2 linked regions of the Homo sapiens genome follow. The protein of the gene in region 1 interacts with the protein of each later gene in a pairwise test. Each region holds a gene or a part of one and is shown on either strand. Other genes may lie near its edges.

Region 1 (3,500 bases):
GGTATATGGTCAGTGCCTTACACACAGTAGGTCTATGGGAAACATTTCACTGAATTCCAGGACAAGAAACAGGGTCTCCAAAAGAAACACTTCTACCAAGCTAAACACCATAAGGTTCGTCTCTTTTTCGGTGAGTTGGAAAAAGTCAATCTTGAACTCCCACGTATCAGCAAAGAGGGAAAAGAACCCTATATCTATTTTTGTACATATAAAGATCATAGGTTTCCCTAAAATTCATATAGAGACTGCATGGAAGTTCGGCCCTAAAATGCTTCTGGCGGTCCCCAAAGCTACATTAATCTAGTACAAACGCCATGCTGACATTTTTTTAAATAAATAAAACCCAAAAGCAATAATACAAATTGAATCTTTACCTACATGAAAAAAGCAAGCATTCAGACAGAGTGAAACACACCATAGGCAGAGTTAAAGGCAATGACAGACCAGGGGAGTGTTTTCCTAACATTTAACAGACAAGGAATTAACGTGAGCAACATGAAGAGCCAACAAAAAGTGGAGCCCAAAGCCTAAGAGAAAAACTGATAAAGGCCATGAACAAGAAACACAATGGATGACAAACTGCAAATCCATATATGATGAGATGCCTAGCTTTACTAATAAGAAGAAAATAAGTATTATTATTATTTTTTTTGAGACGTTGTTTTACTCTGCAGCCCAGGCTGGAGTGCAGTGGCACGATCCCGGCTCACTGCAACCTCCACCTCTCGGGTTCAAGCAATTCTCCTGCCTCAGCCTCCTGAGTATCTGGGACTATAGGCCCACATCACTACACCCAGCTAATTTTTTTGTACTTTTAGTAGAGACGGGGTTTCACCATGTTGGCCAGGCTGGTCTCAAACTCCTGACCTCAAGTGATCCGCCTGCCTTGGCCTCCCAAAGTGCTGGGATTACAGGCAGGAGCCACCATGCCCAGCCGAAAATAAGTATTTTAAATTAAATATTAGAGCAGGAAAGGTGAGGTTGGCCACCAGGAAAAATTTCTGATGGCGAATGCTGTAGTTGCCACATCCTAGGCCACCTCCTTCTTTCCAGATTCTTAGAAATTGTCCAGCTTAACCTTGGGACTGCGTCCCAGGAGCAGCTGAGAACATCATCGCAGGAATCAGACAGGCCTGGTCTTGAGTTTATGCTCTGCCTTCCAGCAGCCATGTAACCCAGAGCATACCTTTTGATCTCCCTTAGCCTTAGTCTTCCCATCTAGAAGTGGAATAACAGCTGCCCCTGGGAGGCTGTGATATTAATATGAAATTACTCCTTAAATTGGCACCAGGTAGCACAGTCTCTGGTACACTCCCAAAACTGGGTTTACAACCCTACATGAACACAAAGGCAAATCTATCCCTAAAAAGAGAGAAAAAATAGTTCATATTTTAAAATCAAATAAGTCTAGCCAAAAATGTTTTCTACATGTCCTTGTGTACATCTTATATGTTTATTTATAAACATACTAATCCATGTCTGCATATAATGTGCAGTATGCACAAATATACCTCTAAGTTTTTAACATATAATACATTTGTAAAGGCGCAGCCCTCACTGTAAAACACGGACAATAATAGTATCTCCTTCATAGGCTGATGTGAGAATTAAATGAGTTAGTAATATATAAAGCATTTAAAACAGATACAGCAAGTGTTATATCCCTAAGAGCTTTTTATTAGCGTTATTATTACCGATGCAGAATGAGCAGACCAAACTGCTTTGAGATGTTGACTGTGACAGGCTATCTGTCAGGTGCTAGGGATTCACAGGTGAACAAGACAGGCTCAGGCCCTACCCACATGAAGTTTCCTGCCCTGTAAAAGAGCTAAACATTGCACAAAAAAAAACAAAACTACCAACAGTACAAACTGTAATAAAGACAATGAAGGAAAGAGGCTGAGTAATCTGAGAGAGATGTGTTTTCAACAGGGGTGATAGATTTGTACCTGTCAGCCACATACTGGTCCTCTTTACCACAGATAGTAACACATCATTTATAAAATGGCTGGTGGGATGAATGATGCAATCTATGGTCAAAGAGCACCTGCCCAGGAGAGACTCAAACCATGGGCCTTGTATGACCAGTACCATGCTCCTAACCAATAACCCAAGGCTCTATTCATGAAATACTCAATACTCCTTCAACTCACCTCTCAAACTGTGTCCCTGGTAAACATTTATTCGTGCACGTACTCATGAATTTAACAAATGTACACTTATTAACCATATGTATTATGCATATGTAAGACACAGGCTACTGCAGTCTACACCTACAGGACCTTATAATACAGCAGAGTAGCTAGCAGCCACTTACCCCTAAACTCCAAACAACCCACTATTCAAATGTTAAATTATATATTCATTTAATATTGACTTACGAGTGAAGTTTAATAAGCTGTAAGTACCATATTTCATCAAATATAAAACACCATTGATTTTTAAGAAGTACTATTAATTACTGGTAAAAAAGAAAAAATGAGGCGGGCGGATCACCTGAGGTCAGGAGTTTGAGACCAGCCTGACCAACATGGAGAAACCCCGTCTCTACTAAAAATACAAAATTAGCCGGACATGGTGGCACATGCCTGTAATCCCAGCTAGTCGGGAGGCTGAGGCAGGAGAATGGCTTGAGCCCAGGAGGCAGAGGATGCGGTGAGCTGAGATTGTGCCATTGCACTCCAGCCTGAGCAATAAGAGCAAAACTCTGTCTCAAAAAAAACATATATATCAGTAATAAGACACAACCTAATGTAAGAAATGTTATAATGTAAAAAAATGTGGGTCTATCACGCCTGTAATCCCAGCACTTTGGGAGGCTGAGGTGGGCGGATCACAATGTCAGGAGATCGAGACCATCCTGGCTAACACAGTGAAACCCCATCTCTACTAAAAATACAAAAAAATTAGCCAGGTGTGGTGGCGGGTGCCTGTAGTCCCAGCTACTGGGGAGGCTGAGGCAGGAGAACGGCTTGAACCTGGGAGGCGGAGCTTGCAGTGAGCAGAGATCACGCCACTGCACTCCAGCCTGGGCGACAGAGCAAGACTCCGTCTCAAAACAAAAAAAAAAAAAAAAAATGTGGGTCTATGGTATGCCAGTCCCCTGATGAAATGAAATTGTTGCCCTGTACTTAAATTATTTTTAATATTCCCAATTACATTTCTATGGAGAAACAAATTTGATGTCAGAAAATCAAATCACTTTCTCATGGCTACACTGGTACATCTGAATCAAGGCTATTTTGTATTTCTGAAATAAAGATTTGGTTATTACATGCAATGGCAACAGATGCTAATATCCACAACATCACTGTTGAGGATCTCATTTTCCAAACTACACTTTAAATGCATCTCTGATTCGAAAAACAGGCCTACGCACTTGGCAAACACGGGGAAAAGGAAGGCAACACCTTTGAGCAGGATAGTCACCTTCTCAACACATCACTAAGACTGCCAAAAAAAAATCAGAGCTTCGAAAAAAGCTTAAGTTATCACATGGT
Region 2 (3,500 bases), on another chromosome or scaffold:
CTCCTCAGGAAGTAGGGGTGGGGTGAGACAGAACAAATGAAAAATTCTATTAAGATTATTTAATTTTATATATTTCTCACCCCTCAAAGAACTCAATCTGGCTGGGCACCGTGGCTCATGGCTGTAATCCCAGCACTTTGGGAGGCTGAGGTGGGTGGATCACTTGAGGTCAGGAGTTTGAGATCAGCCTGGCCACATGGTGAAACCCCAGCTCCATTAAAAATACAAAAAAAAAAAATTAGCCAGGCATGGTGGCACACGCCTGTGGTCCCAGCTGCTCGGGAAGCTGAGGCAGGAGAATTGCTTGAACCTGGGAGACGGTGGTTGCACTGAGCCGAGATCGTACCACTGTACTCTAGCCTGGGCGACAGAGCAAGACTTGGTCTCAGAAAAAAAAAATAAGAAAGAATTCAATCTGAATTTCTATTAGATCAAAAACAACCAGACATAAAAGGTGGTGGTAGTGGCAGAGGAATGATAATTTTAGATAAAAAATTTCAACTTTGCTCCTCTGAAAATTTTACAAACATAAAAAATGTTTCACCACTTTAAAAAAACTTTACAGGAAACTTTAATACCCATGCAATTTGTTTCAGATAGGCACAATTCCAGATGGATATACCTGTATGTTAATACACTCAAGGGTTTACTCATAGATAGCTTCACTTTCCAGGCTATGTAATTTGTTTTCATTATTCAAATTATTTAATTGAAAGAAGAACTAGGAATTTCCAAAGGTTGTCATACTAATTATGTTTTTTTTTTCCAAGCAAATCAGTTCATACTTAAAACAAGACACAGTCTGAGCAAAGATGATAACATAAGTGTTAAGAAAGCTATTTCTTTCTCCTGTGCTGATTTTGCGCTCTGTCATTTATAAACTAAGTCACCTTGGGCAAATCACTTAATTTCTCTAATAGCCTCCACTTCCTCATTTTTGAAATGGGACTAATAACAGTAATAGTACCTACAACTTGTTAGGATATGAAAAATAAAAGCATAAACAGTGCCTAGCAGCACATTGTAAATCTTAGCTTAGTTGCAATTAAGCAGCAGCAGTTGTTGGATAGTTATTCAAGCTCTCTCATTTGGTCCACTTCAAATTTTAACCAAAACTTTTTTCTTTAATAAAAATATACTTTTCTTCAATCAATGTACATTTTATTACATTTTCTTTTAACAATTCGATGTGGTCACTTCTTGCTCTTGTGCTACACCCAGCTTCATGCCTCTCTATTCACTTAAAATTGCCTGTTCACCTAAAAATAAAGATACTAGAGCTGAAAATCTATCAGATTTGAATCTGTTCAACTTCTTACTGATATAAGAAATTCAGCAAAAGGCTAATGCTGAGTCAAAGGTTAGTGGCTTTGAATGCTACTTTCAGATCCTAATTTTTTCATTCCAAAGACGAATTTACCACTTATAATACATTGCCAATTTACTACTACTGAATAATCTATCTCTCTCACTAATATAAACTAAAACTATTAAACAGGAAAATGAAAAAGGCACTATGCCAACTCTACTATTTATACAACTTTCTTATTTTAAAGCAATTCAAATTATATAACATTAACTTTTAGAAAATAGCAACAGCCCAAGAAGTGACAGACCACTAATATTTCTAATAGTGTCTTTAACAAAATGTTTTTTTAATTGAAGAAATACCAACTTTAAGTGAACTTTCTGAAGCCTGAGGAGGATACAGTCAATAAATTCGATTTTGCTTCACTCTATTTTAAGTGAAAGAGACAAACCTGTGGACAAAGGTCCCTGATTATTAGAGCTGGACCCACTAGTGACAATCGTTAGCTGTGCTTACTACAAATCCAGTGTATATGCAAGATGGGTAGGTATGCCTCAGGCCTGTTTCGAACTCGAAGGGAACTGAGGACATCAGGGTTTTTCCTTCCTAAAGGTCAAACTGTTTTCATGTATGAGCTTATCCAATTCCTGAGTAGGAAGAGGAAGTGAACAGAGCTTAATTTGGGAATATTTTAGATTAAAAAGTACCACCTTCCTTCTCATTTTTCTCACCTATCTTTCTCTAATGGTATGTTACTGTTAAATTAGATGTTTTGCTATTCCCACAATTCTTCCTTTCTTCATACTCATCTAAGCAATCCTATGTTAAATGAGATGATTTTAAATGGTATCTATACCTACTTAATTTTTAACAACAAAGCCGACACATTCTGTATGTCTCCTCTGTTCATACCACTTTCTCTTTAAAGCCCTGGATTAGCAGCAAATTTCAACCCATGAAACAGATTTCTGAACATTTGTTACGTTTTAACCAAATCCGAAGACACACATTTTCACCACTTTAAGATATAGTTAGAATGTCCCCTCCAAAACTCATGTTTAAACTTAATCCCCAATGTGATGGTATTGAGAGGGAGTGCCTTTAAGAGGTGATTGGATCATGAGGACTCTGTCCTCATTAATGGATTAACCCATTCATGGATTAAGGGATTATCATGAAAGGGAAACTGGTGGCTTTATAAGAAGAGAAAGACAGACTCAAGCTATTACATTATCACGCTCAGTCCCCTTACTCTGTGATTCTCCATACCACCTTGGGACTCTTCAGAGTCTCCACCAGCAAGAAGGCTCTCACCAGATATGGCCCTTTGACCTGGGGCTTCTCAATCCCCCAAAGTGTAAGAAATAAACTCCTTTTCTTTAGAAATAACCAAGTTTCAATATTCTGTTATAAGCAACAGAAAATGCACTAAGACTATCTAAAATGCCTTCTTTTAAGAATTATGTCAGAGAAGCAGAAGAGACATACAAAAAGGAAAAGTTAGGGGGTTTGACCTTTTAACTAAATTCAGCATGAACTAAAAAAACTCAAAAGTTTGCCATCCTTAAGTCTGAGCTTTATTTTGGAGTATCAAAAAGGTCAAATGAGCTTTCTTAAGGTTTAGGCATCTCGCTTCTGTATCTCAATTTTGCAGGATGAGAAAACCTAAGAGAGATTTCATTTTTCTATTATGTTTCATGACACTACTACCTGCTGTTTAGTTATCAAAAACACTCCAAGGATACAATATAGTCATGTCAGAAAAATCTCCAAATATAGTCACATTGAAAAAGCATATAACCCATTAACTATCGGTAAAAGTCACATGTGAAAAAAATAACTTAGAAATCTTATAGAGGTTAGGGAATTAGAAATATAAACTTACCACCCAGAAGGAAGGTCCCAAGTCCTAATAGAGCAATCCATCGCAGCACTTATTAACCAACGACCATCAGGACTAAAAGCCTTTAAATTAAAAAAAAAAAATATATATATATATATATTATTTATATATAAATATATATGAATATATTTGTATGTATGTGTGTATGTATATATAGTTAACACCTTAAAGAATGTAATAAATGAAAAGATAATGCAGGCTTCATAAAAAAATTAATTTGACTAACATTCAGGCTGCCTTATTTTATATAAAAGAAAATACCACTTCCTAAATACCACTGATTTGGAA

The links. The genes of interacting proteins can lie anywhere in the genome.
Region 2: the proteins of SUCLG1 (region 1) and WDR36 interact in a two-hybrid assay, tested with the Homo sapiens proteins (one large-scale study listed by BioGRID).

The regions. Positions count from the first base shown.
Region 1 is NC_000002.12:84,452,781-84,456,280, forward strand, and holds part of SUCLG1 (succinate--CoA ligase [ADP/GDP-forming] subunit alpha, mitochondrial precursor), read right to left. Parts: intron 1-3,500. UniProt on the Homo sapiens protein: Succinyl-CoA synthetase functions in the citric acid cycle (TCA), coupling the hydrolysis of succinyl-CoA to the synthesis of either ATP or GTP and thus represents the only step of substrate-level phosphorylation in the TCA.
Region 2 is NC_000005.10:111,112,848-111,116,347, reverse strand, and holds part of WDR36 (WD repeat-containing protein 36), read right to left. Parts: intron 3,275-3,500; coding exon 3,195-3,274; intron 1-3,194. UniProt on the Homo sapiens protein: Part of the small subunit (SSU) processome, first precursor of the small eukaryotic ribosomal subunit.